4 linked regions of the Homo sapiens genome follow. The protein of the gene in region 1 interacts with the protein of each later gene in a pairwise test. Each region holds a gene or a part of one and is shown in the gene's direction. Other genes may lie near its edges.

Region 1 (3,838 bases):
GGCAACTGGAAAATCCAAAGGCTATGGTTTTGTATCTTTTTATAACAAACTGGTACGTTCTTCCATCTCAATTTATATTTTTTAATACTAAATTTAGTCATTAGTTACTTAATGTATTGAATCTGAAACTTGAATATACTTGAATGTTAACTACAAACACAACTTTTATGTAATGTTATGTATGTTTTAATAATAGAGTATAATTTCATTCCTCTTTCATAAACTCGAAAATAAATAGCTAGAAAAAGAATGATTATACTATAAGGAAGATTATTAAAATTGTGTTTGTACATTGGTAAAGGTCAGATGGATTTAGAAGTAAAGCCCAAGTCTAGGACAGATGAGCTAATCTGAGAATTTAGAGGTTAGGTAAATTATATTCAGTTTTAACCATGAAAATCTCAGTTTTAACTCTACCTTTTAAATTATTATTCATACTCTTATATAACTGGGATGTGAATGACTACAACAAATTATGTAAATAAAAATTTAAGCAATTCATCTTGATTTTTGCATATATTCTTTGTAAAAGGGGTACCAAAGTAAGCATTTGCATTAACTGTAACATTAAATAATAAAGTGGGCTTTGATTTTAAAGCAGTTTCAATAACTTAAATCAATGTTTTGTTTTGTTTTGTTTTGTTTTTTTGAGATAGAGTCTCGCTCTGTTGCCCAGGCTGGAGTCCAGTGGTGCCATCTCAGCCCACTGCAACCTCCACCTCCCGGGTTCAAGCGATCGCGCTGCCTCAGCCTCCTGAGTAGCTGGGATTACAAGCATGTGCCACCACACCCAGCTCATTTTTATATTTTTGGTAGAGACATGGTTTCACTTGGGTTCGCCAGGCTAGTCTCAAACTTCTGATCTCAAGTGATCCTCCTGCCTTGGCCTCCCAAAGTGCTGGGATTACAGGTCATCTACATTTTATTGAAGTGGTAAGATAAAGGGCCAGAGTATTCTGTTTTTGCTTAGATTGAATCTCAAGTTCAAATCGTTTTCTAATTGGTAATAGTTCAGTTTCGTTTTGTTTAGGATATTTAGTAAATTCATCTACTGATTTGTATGGAACCAGCAGCGCCGATATTTTATTTCATCTTACAGAGTCTTATTTATCACTCTTTTCTTTGTGATTGTGCTTTCTTTTTTATCCATAGGATGCAGAAAATGCGATTGTGCATATGGGCGGTCAGTGGTTGGGTGGTCGTCAAATCCGAACCAATTGGGCCACTCGTAAACCACCTGCACCTAAAAGTACACAAGAAAGTAAGATATGTCCACTGTGTGTGTTAAAATTATATTCTTCACAAAATCATGTATCATGTATTCATCTAGTCTCAATTTCTAATTTATTTATGTAAGAGACAGGGTCTTGCTCTGTTGCCCAGGCTGGAGTGCGGTGGCATGATCTTAGCTCACTGTAGCCTGAAACTCCTGGGTATAAGTGATCCTTTCACCTCAGCCTCCTGAGTAACTGAGACTACAGGGACATGCCACCATGCCCAGCTAATTTGTAATTTTTTTATAGAGACAGGGTCTGGTTACGTTGTCCAGGCTGACGTAGTATTTAATTAGTGTTGCAAGACTCTAATTATTTCATTTTATATTTCATTATCTGAAAATAATTGGGCTGTGGTATAAGTATTTTTGGAGCTGTGAATCACCTGATTTTATAGATCAAGTCTGTGTCAAATCATAGCATCAAGAAAAATTATGTTTTCTCCTCCCATTGAGGCATATCTTTTTTTTTTTTTTTTTTTTTTTTTTGAGGTGGAGTCTCGCTCTGTCACCCAGGCTGGAGTACAGTGGTGCGATCTCAGTTCACTGCAACCTCCGCCTCGCAGGTTCAAGCGATTCTCCTGCCTCAGCCTCCTGAGTGGCTGGAATTACAGGCGTGTGCCACCACACCCAGCCAATTTTTGTATTTTTAGTAGAGACAGGGTTTCACCGTGTTGGTCAGGCTGGTCTCGAACTCGTGACCTCGTGATCCACCTGCCTCAGCCTCCCAAAGTGCTGGGATTACAGGCGTGAGCCACCGTGCCCTGCCTTAATTTTTGTATTTTTAGTAGAGACAGGATTTCGTCATGTTGGCCAGGCTGGTCTCGAACTCCTGACCTCAGGTGATCTGCCCACCTCAGCCTCCCAAAGTGCTGGGTGCCCGGCCTGAGGCATATCTTAATAGTATATAGTAATTAACAGAAGAGTTTCATAGTACAATATAACAGTCAACGTTTTTGTTTTGTTTCTGCATACAGACAACACTAAGCAGTTGAGATTTGAAGATGTAGTAAACCAGTCAAGTCCAAAAAATTGTACTGTGTACTGTGGAGGAATTGCGTCTGGGTTAACAGGTACAATGTTTGGTTTTCTAATCACCTCTGAGGAGCTTCATCACTGTTCATATGAATTTCATGATACACATCAGCCATGTTTTATTTGTATGTTTTGTTTTATAGATCAGCTTATGAGACAGACATTCTCACCATTTGGACAAATTATGGAAATAAGAGTTTTCCCAGAAAAGGGCTATTCATTTGTCAGGTAACACTCTACTTGAAATATCATTATTACTCTTATATTTGATTCATTCCTTTCACTTATGTTCTCCAGGGTATCAGTGTTTGTTATTTTAGTGCTTCTTTGCAGTATAGAAGTTTAAGCTACCTACCTAATGTACTTTAGAAAAAAAATACCAACTTGCAGGTGTAAACTGATGAGTTTCCATGTTATTTATTGTGTTAGGTTCTTAAAAAATAAAAGACAAAACCATATCATTTTTCTTTCTTAGATTTTCAACCCATGAAAGTGCAGCCCATGCCATTGTTTCGGTGAACGGTACTACGATTGAAGGACATGTGGTTAAATGCTATTGGGGTAAAGAATCTCCTGATATGACTAAAAACTTCCAACAGGTAATTCGATTTTTCATAGCATTCTTTAAGGTTTCCATCTTACATGTCACATAAAAGCTTTGGAAACTCTGTAAAATGAACAATAAAATAAAGCATATAGCTACTTTCAGTTGATTGTATTTCAAAATTGATTATTTGCGGTATTAACTGAATCTTAATACTTTCTTTTCACAGGTGTCACCACCCCAATAAACTTAGACAATGATAAATAACAGAGTCCTATTCACATAAGGGTGCTTACTTAGTTTTTCTCTTCCTTGTCTCCCACTCTTTCTTCATATACGGTGTTTCTTATGTGTTCCCTAAAACAATACTTTGCTTTTTCCTAGGTTGACTATAGTCAATGGGGCCAATGGAGCCAAGTGTATGGAAACCCACAACAGTATGGACAGTATATGGCAAATGGGTGGCAAGTACCGCCTTATGGAGTATACGGGCAACCATGGAATCAACAAGGATTTGGAGTAGAGTAAGTTGTTTGGGTTTTTCCAGTATAGAAACGTATGGTTCTGACAAAATAAATAAAAGTGTGTTTTCCTAGGGAGAATCTATTTTAATTATATACATTGAGCTATTTGGCATTATGAGCATTATAGAAACTAATCTAACAAAATATGATTTATGAGGCTAAGAAATTACTTCTCATTACCTAGGTGGAAAGGGGGGATTGGGGTAACATTTAGTGTGTCCTATGATCCCTGTAAGCAGTTGGTAGAATTTGATTTACATTTCTGATACACTTTTATTTATTTTTGCATGTAAAAGATCTTTGTCCAGATATATTCAAAAGTTTGATGGTTTTATGCCTATGTGGTATGTGTGAGAAATCTGAGGTTTGTGTGATACAAAGTAACTGGCCTTTTTTTTTTTTTTTTTTCTTTTGTTGATAGAGTGGTTTCCTCCTTTGTAATTCCCCTGCCCAGGGCCAGCC
Region 2 (3,838 bases), on another chromosome or scaffold:
AGGAAAGGGCTTTGAGAAATTGAGTGCTGTGAAACAATGTTAATTTGCCTTGGGTATCCAAGGAGGCCCAGGAAAGGCTGAATTCCTCTAAGCTCTAGAAGGATTCCAGTTGCCTGCCTGAAGGAAGCGCTGTTGTCATCCCTGTCCGTCTTGGGCAGCCTGGCCCTGATCACTGGTCTCTGTCTCCAGGTCCGGACACTGTTTGTCAGCGGCCTCCCTGTGGACATTAAACCCAGAGAACTCTACTTGCTCTTCCGGCCGTTCAAGGTGAGTCAGGACCCAGCCGCCCCCTGGGTAGAGCCTGGGACCCTGGAGAAGCAGCGGGAGTGAATCTCGGGTCGGGCAGGGCAGCAGGATGATGCGGGAAGGCGTGGCAGAAGCTGTGGGGGCAGGTCCAGCCCGTGTCCTGGTTCTGCGAATTCACATGCTGCCTTCTGAGCCTCTGTTTCCTCGCCAGTTAAATGGAGACAGTAAGAATCTTTTTTTTTTTTTCCTCGAGACGAGTCTTGCTCTGCCGCCCAGGCTAGAGTGCAGTGGCTTGATCTCGGCTCACTGCAACCGCTGCCTCCTGGGTTCAAGCAATTCTCCTGCCTCAGCCTCCCAAGTAGCTAGGATTACAGGCATGCGCCATTATGCCCGGCTAATATTTGTGTTTTCAGTAGAGATGGGGTTTCACCATGTTGGTCAGGCTGGTCTTGAACTCCTGACCTCGTGATCCGCCCGCCCCGGCCTCCCAAAGTGCTGGGATTACAGGTGTGAGCCACGGCGCTTGTCCTTTTTGTTTGTTTTGTTTTGAGACAGAGTCTCACTCAGTTGCCCAGGCTGGAGTGCAGTGGCGTGCGGCTCACTGCAACCTCCGCCTCCTGGGTTCAGGCGATTCTCCTGCCTCTGCCTCCCGAGTAGCTGGGACTACAGGCACCCTCCACCATGCCTGGCTAGTTTTTGTATTTTTAGTAGAGATGGGGTTTCACCATATTGGCCATGATGGTCTGGATCTCTTGACCTTGTGATCTGCCCGCCTCGGCCTCCCAAAGTGCTGGGATTACAGACGTGAGCCATGATGCCCAGCTAACAGTAAGAATCTTTAAATATATGTGGTTATATAAAGAATCTTTGAGATTCAGTGTAGCCTTTTCAGTTTGCAGATGAGAAAACTTAAAAGGTAAGGTCTGTGCTCTCGGGTTACTAGTTAGTGGAGCAAATGGGAATTTCTGCCTGAAGTGATGAGTGCTGCCGCGTGATGCCCACCCTATGTGCTAGACCGCGTGATTCAGAACGCAGGGCGGTGGACGTTTGGCAGTGGCGGAGGTCAGGGTGGGTTGATGTTGACAGGGAGAAGGGTGTGAGAATGACTCAGGGGAACGCGGGGGCTGATGAGGTGGCAGCGCTGGGCTAGCACAACATACGCTTCTGACCTTCCACGGTAACAGCCACCTCTCTCCGCAGGGGTATGAAGGGTCCCTGATCAAGCTCACTGCAAGACAGGTAATTTCTCTCCTAGGGTTTTCTTCCTCCCAGCCCAGACCGGCTGCTGAGCTTCAAACAAGGGCCCGTTAACCCTTCCCTAATCTAGAGGCATCTGGCGGTACAGACTTGCGCTCCCTGTTGTCCTGTTTCTGACAGAGCAGCCTCTGTAGGTCCCACTGTCTCTTCACTGGCCATCTGAGCCCAGCCAGCTCCTGGTCCTCCCTGTCTGTTTCTTAGGAATCTGGGAGCCCCGCTGGCTGAGGACAGTAAAGCAGTTAGCTGAGCTCTAGCTTTTTTTTTTTTTGAGATGGAGTTTTGCTCTTGTTGCCCAGGCTGGAGTGCAATGGCACGATTGAGCTCTAGCTTTTAATACAAGGAGGCCAGGGCCCGCTAGCCTTTGGGGGCTATTTGGGGTCTAGACTGATCCTTGGGAAAATGAAGTTGGAGCAGTTTTCAACCTATTGCTCCTTGATAGAACCGGAGTCTTCCCATGCCCTTGATACATTGGTGTCCCCTTTCTTGCTGGGGAAAACACTGGGACTTACTTTTAGTTATCTGCATGCATTAAAAACAATACTTTTACTAAAAGGGCGACGTTTAATTCAGTGGAATTAAGCTCTGTTGGCATCATTTCCCACAGGATATTCCTGGGGAGGGAGACTTGACTTTTGGTGCATGTTAAACTGCTGTTCCAGTGAACAGGGAGGATGTGGGCTGGAGTTTTGGGGGGCTTTTTTTCCTTTTGTATTCTCATCAGCAGGGCAAATACTGTTTCCACATAGATGATACTCTTTTTTTGTTGTTATTTTGGAGGGAGAGGTGGAATGCTAGGAGAGATATAAGGGTGTTCTCTCTTTTTCCTACTAGCCTGTTGGTTTTGTGATCTTTGACAGCCGTGCAGGAGCAGAAGCGGCCAAGAATGCGCTGAACGTGAGTAGGTGGAGAACAGGTCTTCTCTGACTCACAGCCCTCTTAGGCAGTGGGTGTGCAGATGTATCTTATTTCCCGGCCATCCCTGGGCAGAGTCCTTGGCGACACTGTCTGTGCCAAAGGCCATTACTCAAGGCCTGAGCTGCCTTTCCTCTGCCTCAGCCACCGTGTGGGCAGGTCTTCGAGGCGAGCTTGTTTATGGCGCCCTTCTCTACTCTCTGCCATTAACACTCTGGGTCCCCCGGAGTAAGCCTTTCTCTTCTTTTCTCTACCCATGTAGGGTATTCGCTTTGATCCCGAAAATCCACAGACTCTGAGGCTAGAGTTTGCCAAAGCCAACACCAAGATGGCCAAGAGCAAGCTAATGGCAACTCCAAATCCCAGCAACGTGCACCCCGCCCTAGGAGCACACTTCATCGCACGGGACCCCTGTGAGTGGCACTCTGAGCTGGCAGGCCCTCATGGAGTTGCATTCAGGGCAGACTTGCAGGCTCTTGCAGAGGGAAGCCCCTTTTCCAGGAGGCTTTTTGTGTCCACGGCCACCCATTTTTGAAACACCTGGTTTTCCTCCCTCCCCTGCAGCCTGCCTAGAATTTCTGAGCTGCCAGGGCTTCCAGCTTCCCTGCAACCTTCTTTAATTTCTCATTTGAGACGAGCTGAGGCCTGTCTTAAAGCAGGCAGGATGCACACCATGACAGGCCGATTTAACGTGGCTTCCTTGCCTGGTCTCGGGGTCCTCTGTGGTTGGGGGTGGTCTGGCCTCAGTGTGGGGCATATGGCTCAACCATAGTGCTGGGTCCCCTTCTCCGTTTGGAAGGGGAGGCGAGTGTTCTGATGATGGAGGCCATTGTCTCCTGTTGTAGATGACCTGATGGGGGCTGCTCTGATCCCTGCATCCCCAGAGGCCTGGGCCCCCTACCCTTTGTACACCACAGAGCTGACCCCAGCCATCTCCCATGCTGCGTTCACCTACCCAACTGCCACTGCCGCTGCCGCCGCCCTCCACGCTCAGGTAAGCCCTTTAAGGTTGGGGAGGGCGAAGAACAAGGGCTCTTAGCTGGCCAGACTTTGCATGTGCCTGGCCACTTGGCCGCTGCTGTCCCAGAGCTGCAGCAGAACTCTTGTCTTCCTTGATGGTTTGAAAGCCCAGACCCCAGGGACCTATTTGTCCTCCCCTTGGGTTTAGGATTTGACAGGGAGGGAGAAGATAACCCACGAGTTCCCATGGAGGATGCCAGGCAGCCCAGCTGTGGTTCCCCAGCCCCAAGCACCCCTGCCCAGGCACCGACTATGTTCTCCCATGGTGATGGGACTATGATTCCAGTCCTAACCTGGGTATGGTCTCTGGAGTCAGACCATCTGCCTCTGCCCCTTCCTGTCCCTTTCATCAAGCTCTTACAGATTGCTGTGCCTCGATTTTTTTTTTTTAGTCATCTGAAAA
Region 3 (3,838 bases), on another chromosome or scaffold:
CCCTGCGCTCCATGCAGGGTTTCCCTTTCTATGACAAACCTATGGTGAGCATTGCGGGTACGGAGGCTGTGTGGGTGTGTAAAATGTTATAGGAGACTGGGCGGGCCTGGATTAGAGGAGGGGATATTACGGTTCATTTGCCAAGGTGAGGCTGGACCAGGCTCCCACTGCACCTTGCCTCATTTAAAAATCTTTTCTTTGGCCGAGGGCGGTGGCTCACGTCTGTAATCCTGGCACTTTGGGAGGCCGAGGCAGGTGGATTACCTGAGCTCAGGAGTTTGCAGCCAGCCTGGGCAACACCGTGAAACCCTGTCTCTACTAAAATACAAAAATTAGCTCGGTGTGGCAGCATGCACCTGTAGTCCCAGCTACTCCTGTGGCTGAGGAAGGAGAATTGCTTGAACCCGGGAGGCAGAGATTGCAGTGAGCCGAGATCCTGCCACTGCACTCCAGCCTAGGCAACAGAGTGAGACTCTGTCTCAGAAAAAATAAATAAATAAATAAATAAATAAATAAATTATTTTGAGACAGAATCTTCCTCTGTTGCCCAGGCTGGAGTGCAGTGGTGCAATCTTGGCTCACTGCAACCTCCACCTCCCGGGTTCAAGTGATTCTCCTGCCTCAGCCTCCTGAGTAGCTGGGATTACAGGCACGTGCCACCATACCTGGCTGATTTTTTTATTTTTAGTAGAGACGGGGTTTCGCCATGTTGCCCAGGCTGGTCTCAAACTCCTGAGCTCAAGTGATCTGCCTGCCTCAGCCTCCCAAAGTGCTAGGATTACAGGCGTGAGCTACTGTGCCACACTAAGAATCTTTAACATACCTTCCCCTACTGAATAAGCACCATGAAAGAGGGGTTTTTGTCTATTTTGTTCATTGCTTTATTCCCAGAGCCTTGAATGGCGCCTGGCATCTGGCAGGTTCTCCTTAAACAGCTAAGTGAGTGAGATTGAACCTGGAAGACTGAAGTATTCTTGTGTGACAGGAAATCCCCCTGCACTGCACTCCTCTCCTAGCATTGTCTCCTCGGTCCTTTGGCCTGATGTTTATTGCTGTTCCAGCTTCCCTTAAAAATACCAACAGCCTTTCTACTGAACACTTGCTTACTGTGTGTCAGGTACTGTTCCAAGCACTTTAACTCATTTAGTCCTCACAACAGTCCTTTGAAGTGGGAAGTATCATAATCCCCATTTTTCAGACAAGGAAGTTAAGGCCAAGATATTTCTGTGTTTCTCAGTAAGCTCCTGATAAGGTCTGAATTTTTTTTTGTTTGTTTGTTTTTTGTTTTTTGTTTTTTGCTCTGTTGCCTGGGCTGGAGTGCAGTGGTGCCATCTCAGCTGACTGCAACCTTCGCCTCCTGGGTTCAAGCGATTCTTCTGCCTCAGCCTCTTGAGTAGCTGGGACTACAGGTGCGCACCACCATGCCCAGCTAATTTTTGTATTTTTGGTAGAAATGGGGTTTCCTGGCCAGGCGCAGTGGCTCATGCCTGTAATCCCAGCACTTTCGGAGGCCGAGGTGGGTGGATCACCTGAGGTCAGGAGTTCGAGACCAGCCTGGCCAACATGGTGAAACCCTGTCTCTACTAAAAGCACAAAAATTAGCCAGGCGTGGTGGTGGGCGCCTGTAATCCCAGCTAGTAGGGAGGCTGAGGCAGAATTGCTTGAACCCGGGAGGCAGAGGTTGCAGTCAGCTGAGATCTCATCACTGCACTCTAGCCTGGGTGACAGAGCAAGACAATGTCTCAAAAAAAAAAAAAAAAGAAAAGAAACAAAGAAATGGGGTTTTGCCATGTTGGCCAAGCTGGTCTCCACCTCCTGGCCTCAAGTGATCTGCTCGCTTTAGCCTCCCAAAGGGCTGGGATTACAGGCATGAGCCGCAGCACCTGGCCCCTGATAAAGGTCCAATTTTGAATCTTGGCAATTGGGCTCTGAATCCACGCTCTTAACCCGTTCTGCTCTCTGTTTGGTAGCGTATCCAGTATGCCAAGACCGACTCAGATATCATTGCCAAGATGAAAGGCACCTTCGTGGAGCGGGACCGCAAGCGGGAGAAGAGGAAGCCCAAGAGCCAGGAGACCCCGGCCACCAAGAAGGCTGTGCAAGGCGGGGGAGCCACCCCCGTGGTGGGGGCTGTCCAGGGGCCTGTCCCGGTAAGCCAGGTCCCGGAGACCAACCCTCCCACTGCCAGACCTTCCTCAGCCACATGGACTGGCTTTGGGACAGGGTGGGGAGAGTTCTCCCCTTGGGGCTTCAGACCCCTCCTTTCCATTTCTTTATAGAGATGTGTTTCTCTCTCTCTTTTGGGGGGTATTGAGCACCTAGATGATGCTATCTCCTTTCGAAACTCTTGTTCCCTCCTTGTGACTGTTTCTCAAGGTCTTTCTTCATGGCTATGACTTGGTTTCGCTCTCTCCGTGGCCTTGATTTTGTCGCCTGTGTCTTGTAACTCATTGTGCATGTAGAAAATCCAAGTGTCTACTAAGCAACTGTTAGGATTAATAAGTGAACTTAAATTTAGAAAGATCGCTGGATATAAAGGCAATATGGAAAAAAATTAGTTTTATTTATTTATTCATATTATGTTTTGAGACAGGGTCTCACTGTCACCCAGGTTGGAGTGCAGTGGCGCCATCACAGCTCACTACAACCTCCGCCTCCCAGGCTCAAGTGATACGCCTCAGCCTCCCTAGCAGCTGGAACTGTCAGTCCGTGCCACTCCACCCAGCTAACTTTTGCATTTTTTGTAGAGACGGGGCTTAGCCATATCACCCAGGCTAGTCTCAAACTCACTGTCTCAGCCTCCCAAAGTGCTAGGATTACATGCATGAGCCACCATGGCTGGCCCCCAGTTTTATTTTTATATGCCAGTAACAGACCAGTAGACTTCACATTGAAAAGTAGCACTGAGGGGTAAATCCAACAAAAGGTTTGCAGAACGACTACACTGAAATCACAGAATGTAGCTGGGAGAAATCAGAGACTCAGCAATGGATAGGAAGACTCAGTATTGTCAAGAGGTCAGTTCCATCCAAATTAATTGAAGATTCAACGTGATTGCAATCAAAATCCCACCAGGAATTTCGGTAAACACTGGACACTGATTGGCTCTTTCTAAATGTGTGGAAAGACAAGGCCAAGCCAGGCGAGGAGAATAAAGCACCAGGACCTGCATGACCAGGGGAAGCTCCAGCAACCAGGCCAGGCCCAATGGCTCATGCCTGTAATCCCAGCACTTTGGGAGGCCAAGATAGGAGGATTGCTTTAGGTCAGGAGTTCAAGACCAGCCTCTATAAAATAGCAAGACCTCATCTCTACAAAAAATAAAATAGAAAACTGGGCGTGGTGACTCATTCCTGTAGTCCCAGCTGCTCAGGAGGCTGAGCTGGGAGGATCGCTTGAGAACTGGAGGTCAAGGCTGCAGTGAACAGTGGTTTTGTCACTGCACTCCAGCCTGGGTAACAGAGTGAGACCTTGTCTCTTTTTTGTTTTGTTTTGTTTTCTTTTGTTTTTTTTCGGGAGGGAGTCTCAGTCAATCTGTCTCCCCAGGCTGGAATGCAGTCGTGCAATCTCGGCTCACTGCAACCTCTGCCTCTCAAGTTCAAGTGATCTTCTGCCTCAGCCTCCCAAGTAGCTGGATCACAGGCACATGCCACCACGTCCATGTGCAAAAAAAAAAAAAAAACCTGCAGCAACCAACCAGGATGATATACAGTTGGCAGAAGGGTAGGAAGACAGACCAAGGGGACAGGATGAAGAGTCTAGGTACAGCTACACTTGTATAATTACTTGATGTGTGATCGAGGTACCACTGCACTTCACTGAGGAAAGGACTTTTTTT
Region 4 (3,838 bases), on another chromosome or scaffold:
CCCTCTTCCAGTTCAGGGTCTCAATGGCTGGAGCCTTTCTTGGCAATTCAGAGTCCAAGTTGGGAACCAGCCCTGAACTGGACGCCATCCCAGCACAGGGTGCTCTCACCTACACCCACGCTCACAGACTGGGCCGCGTAGACACATCCATTCATGTGCATCTTTGGGATATGGGAGGAAACTGGAGTACTTGGAGAAGACCCATAAAGATGGGAGAATGAGCCAGCTTCACACAGACAGTGACCTCAGCTGAGACTTTTTGTTTTTTCTTCTCATCAACATTATAACAAAACAAAGTTGAATGAAACGTCTTTCGAGGACCTGCTATAGACTAAAATTTTAAAACCCTGTCCCATATATGAACGAACAATTAGAAAATACAGTAGAAGAAAAGAGCCTATTTACAACCACAGGGAAAAGTTTAACAGAAATCCCTTAAAAGAAATGTATATAGGAGATCTGATCAAGAAAATAAACTACATGAAAAGGACAGGAACTAAACAGTCCTCTGTGTCTGCATTTGCGGGTAGAAAATATTCAGGGAGCCGGGTGCGGTGGCTCATGCCTGTAATCCCAGCACTTTGGGAGGCTGAGGCGGGCGGATCACGTGAGGCCAGGAGTTCAAGAGCAGCCTGGCCAACGTGGTGAAACCCTGTCTCTATTAAAAATACAAAAAATTAGCCGGGCATGGCGGCGCTTGCCTATAATCCCAGTTACTCAGGAGGCTGAGGCAGGAGAATCTCTTGAACCCAGGAGATGGAGGTTGCAGTGAGCTGACATCATGCTATTGCACTCTAGCCTGGGCAACAGAGTGAGACCCTGTCTCAAAAAAAAAAAAATACTTGGGGGAAACAATAAAAATAACCATAGAAAATATAAGTTAATATAATTATATAGTATTCACACTTTTAAGTATTATAAATAATATAGAGATGATTTATACGGGAAGATGTGCATAGGTTATATGCAAATACTACACCATTTTATATCAGGTACTTGAGCATCCTGGGATTTGAGTATCTATGGGGGTCCTAGAACCAATCTCCCTCAGGTACCGAGGGACTATACTATACCTTGTTCTTGAACGAGATGATTTGACATTTTAAATAGATGTTCCCCTAGATTAATCTGTAAATATAATACATTTCCAACCAGAATGCTAACACATTAATTTTTTTTTTTAACGATCTGGAAAAAATAAAAATACATAGGAAAATCTGAAAAAAAAAAAAAAAAAAAAGACAGTAGGGTGACTCACATTAATGTTTATTTAAAATATATTGTAAAGCTTCTGTAATTAAAATGGAATGGTACAGTTGCAGACCAGTAGAAAAGAATAAAGTCAGCTGGGCACAGTATCTCACGCCTGTAATCCCAAGACTTTGGGAGGCCGAGGCAGGCAGATCACTTGAGCTCCGGAGTTCAAGACCAGCCTGGGCAACATGGTGAAACTCCATCTCTACAAAAAAACTAGCTGGGCAGGATCGATTGAGCCCAGAAGGTCGAGTCTGCAGTGAGCTTATGATGGTGCCACTGCACTCTGGCCAGGGAACAAAGCAAGACTGTTTCAAAAAGAAAAGAATAAAGTCCACAATATCTGTGGGAAATGAAGGAGGCTCTATAGCCTGCTTGTTAAGAGCCTAAGTTCTGGAGTCATACTGGGTTTGAACTGCTTCTCTCCTTGTCATTAGCTCTGGGACCTTAAACAAGTTAACTTGCCAAGCTTCCTCTTCTCCAGCTGTAAACTGGGGGTGAAAATAAAATTTGTATCTGGGTTCTGGAGCTACCAAGTGAGGTGGTGCACAGTACACCACCATGTTCCATGTTTCATGGTAAATATTGGATAGATGCTAGTTATAAATGGCAGCAGTATAGTGTAGTAAAGGTAGCTTGTCCAATTAGCTGAGAAAAGATAGATAGTTGATAATTATTGTTTGGAAGAATTTAAAGGTTTTAAACAAGAAGTTAAACCATAAAAATACTATATGAAAGCAAGGCAGAGTAGGGAAGGCCTTTGTAAATATATCACAAAATCCAGAAGCCACGTATAGGAAAACATTGATAGATTTGATGACATGAAATTTAAAACTTTTGTATAACCAAAATATGCCCTTTAAGAGATCTACAGATAAAAGGAATTTTGGAGAAATTTTTTTTTTTTTTTTTTTTTTTTTTTTTTTTTTTGATATGGAGTAGCCCTCCGTTGCCCAGGCTGGAGTGCAGTGGCGCAATCTCGGCTCACTGCAAGCTCCGCCTCCCAGGTTCATGCCATTCTCCTGCCTCAGCCTCCCAAGTAGCTGGGACTACAGGCACCCGCCACCACACTGGGCTAATCGTTTTTTTGTATTTTTAGTAGAGACGGGGTTTCACCGTGTTAGCCAGGATGGTCTCGATCTCTTGACCTCGTGATCCGCCTGCCTCGGCCTCCCAAAGTGCTGGGATTATAGGCGTGAGCCACTGCACCCGGCCAAAAAATTTTAATCTCATATATGAAAGCTAGTCTGCTTAGTATCTTACAAAGCAGTGAGAGAAAAAGATGTGCTACTGAGTAATAAAATGATCAAAGGCAAAGAGTACCTACAGTCTTTTATTTATATAAAGTCAAAGAACAAGCAAAATTAAGTCAAAAATTGACTGCCATGAGGCAAGGTAGTTGATTGGAAAAGAGCATGAGTAAACTTTCTGGAGTGAGAAATGTTCTGTATCTTGGGGTGGTTATAGGGGCGTATACAATTATCAGAGCTTGTTAATCTGAACACTTAAGATCTCTGCATTTTGTTGAGTGCTAATTACACTTCAATTTAAAAATTGGTAAAAGTACTCCAGGACATCAATAAATTTAAATTTGGGAGTACACACAGTGGCTCATGGCTATAATCCCAATACTTTGGGAGGCTGAGGCAGGAGGGTCCTTTGATCCCAGGAGTTTGAGACCGGGTCTGGGCAACATAGTGAGACACCTGTCTCTGCAATAAATTTTTAAAATTTTAAGAAATTTGCTGGGCATGATGGCACACACCTGTAGTACCGGCTATTAGGGAGACTGAGGCAAGAAGATGACTTGAGCCCAGGAGGTCAAGATTGCAGTGAGCTGTGATCTCTCTCGCCACTGCACTCCAGCCTGGGTGACAGAATGAGACCCTGTCTCCAAAAAAAAGACGAGGAAATGTAAGTTAAAATAAGACGCTAATTTTTAATATCTATTGTCATTATAAACAATAAATTTAATAATATCCAGTGGTAAAAGGAGTTAGAGAAATGAGTGTAAATTGGCATGGACTTTTCAAATGGATTTTAGATAAATTTATCTGTTGACTCTAAATTCCATGTCCAGTGCTTTTTCCTGGTGTTAGATTCTCACACACAAACAAAGAAGTGTTGAGAGATGTTCACTGTATCATACTTAAAACAACTTATACTGCTACAAAAAGAAGGTAAATTAAATTGCAAATCATTTTTGTATGATGTGCAGCCATTAAAAGGGATGAAGTTAATAGAGCTGTATGAACTATTATGGAAAACTTTCCTATGTAAAGAAAAACACATTACATAAATAAGATTCCGCTTAAGTAATAATAATGTATGCATAGAAAGTTCCTTAAGGAATATTTAAGAAATGGTGAACACTGATTTTGAAATTTTTCTTTCTTCCTTCATTTCTTTTCTTTTTTTAGGAAAATGTCTGATGAATTTTCGGTAAGTTGATCAGTTTATCTGTGATAAGTTTTTCATCTCTTAAGAAAAACAACATGGTCCTAACTGGGCTACGTAAATCTTTTCACTTAAAAGAGATGCTTTAACCAGGCATGGTGGTGTGCACCTGTAGTCCTAGCTACTT

Evidence for each region.
Region 2: the proteins of TIAL1 (region 1) and RBPMS2 interact in binary tests that used the Homo sapiens proteins (3 or more experiments, as listed by UniProt).
Region 3: the proteins of TIAL1 (region 1) and SNRPA interact in binary tests that used the Homo sapiens proteins (3 or more experiments, as listed by UniProt).
Region 4: the proteins of TIAL1 (region 1) and MAPK1IP1L interact in binary tests that used the Homo sapiens proteins (3 or more experiments, as listed by UniProt).

What each region holds. Positions count from the first base shown.
Region 1 is NC_000010.11:119,576,149-119,579,986, reverse strand, and holds part of TIAL1 (nucleolysin TIAR), read left to right. Parts: coding exon 1-52; intron 53-1,152; coding exon 1,153-1,261; intron 1,262-2,250; coding exon 2,251-2,346; intron 2,347-2,451; coding exon 2,452-2,536; intron 2,537-2,783; coding exon 2,784-2,907; exon of another isoform or gene 2,908-3,081; coding exon of another isoform or gene 3,082-3,099; exon of another isoform or gene 3,100-3,236; coding exon 3,237-3,376; intron 3,377-3,838. UniProt on the Homo sapiens protein: RNA-binding protein involved in alternative pre-RNA splicing and in cytoplasmic stress granules formation. Shows a preference for uridine-rich RNAs.
Region 2 is NC_000015.10:64,747,990-64,751,827, reverse strand, and holds part of RBPMS2 (RNA-binding protein with multiple splicing 2), read left to right. Parts: intron 1-189; coding exon 190-267; intron 268-1,446; coding exon 1,447-1,485; intron 1,486-2,334; coding exon 2,335-2,397; intron 2,398-2,677; coding exon 2,678-2,828; intron 2,829-3,260; coding exon 3,261-3,409; intron 3,410-3,838.
Region 3 is NC_000019.10:40,757,461-40,761,298, forward strand, and holds part of SNRPA (U1 small nuclear ribonucleoprotein A), read left to right. Parts: coding exon 1-44; intron 45-1,970; coding exon 1,971-2,150; intron 2,151-3,838. UniProt on the Homo sapiens protein: Component of the spliceosomal U1 snRNP, which is essential for recognition of the pre-mRNA 5' splice-site and the subsequent assembly of the spliceosome. U1 snRNP is the first snRNP to interact with pre-mRNA.
Region 4 is NC_000014.9:55,058,006-55,061,843, forward strand, and holds part of MAPK1IP1L (MAPK-interacting and spindle-stabilizing protein-like), read left to right. Parts: intron 1-3,149; exon of another isoform or gene 3,150-3,166; coding exon of another isoform or gene 3,167-3,168; intron 3,169-3,674; coding exon of another isoform or gene 3,675-3,678; coding exon 3,679-3,696; intron 3,697-3,838.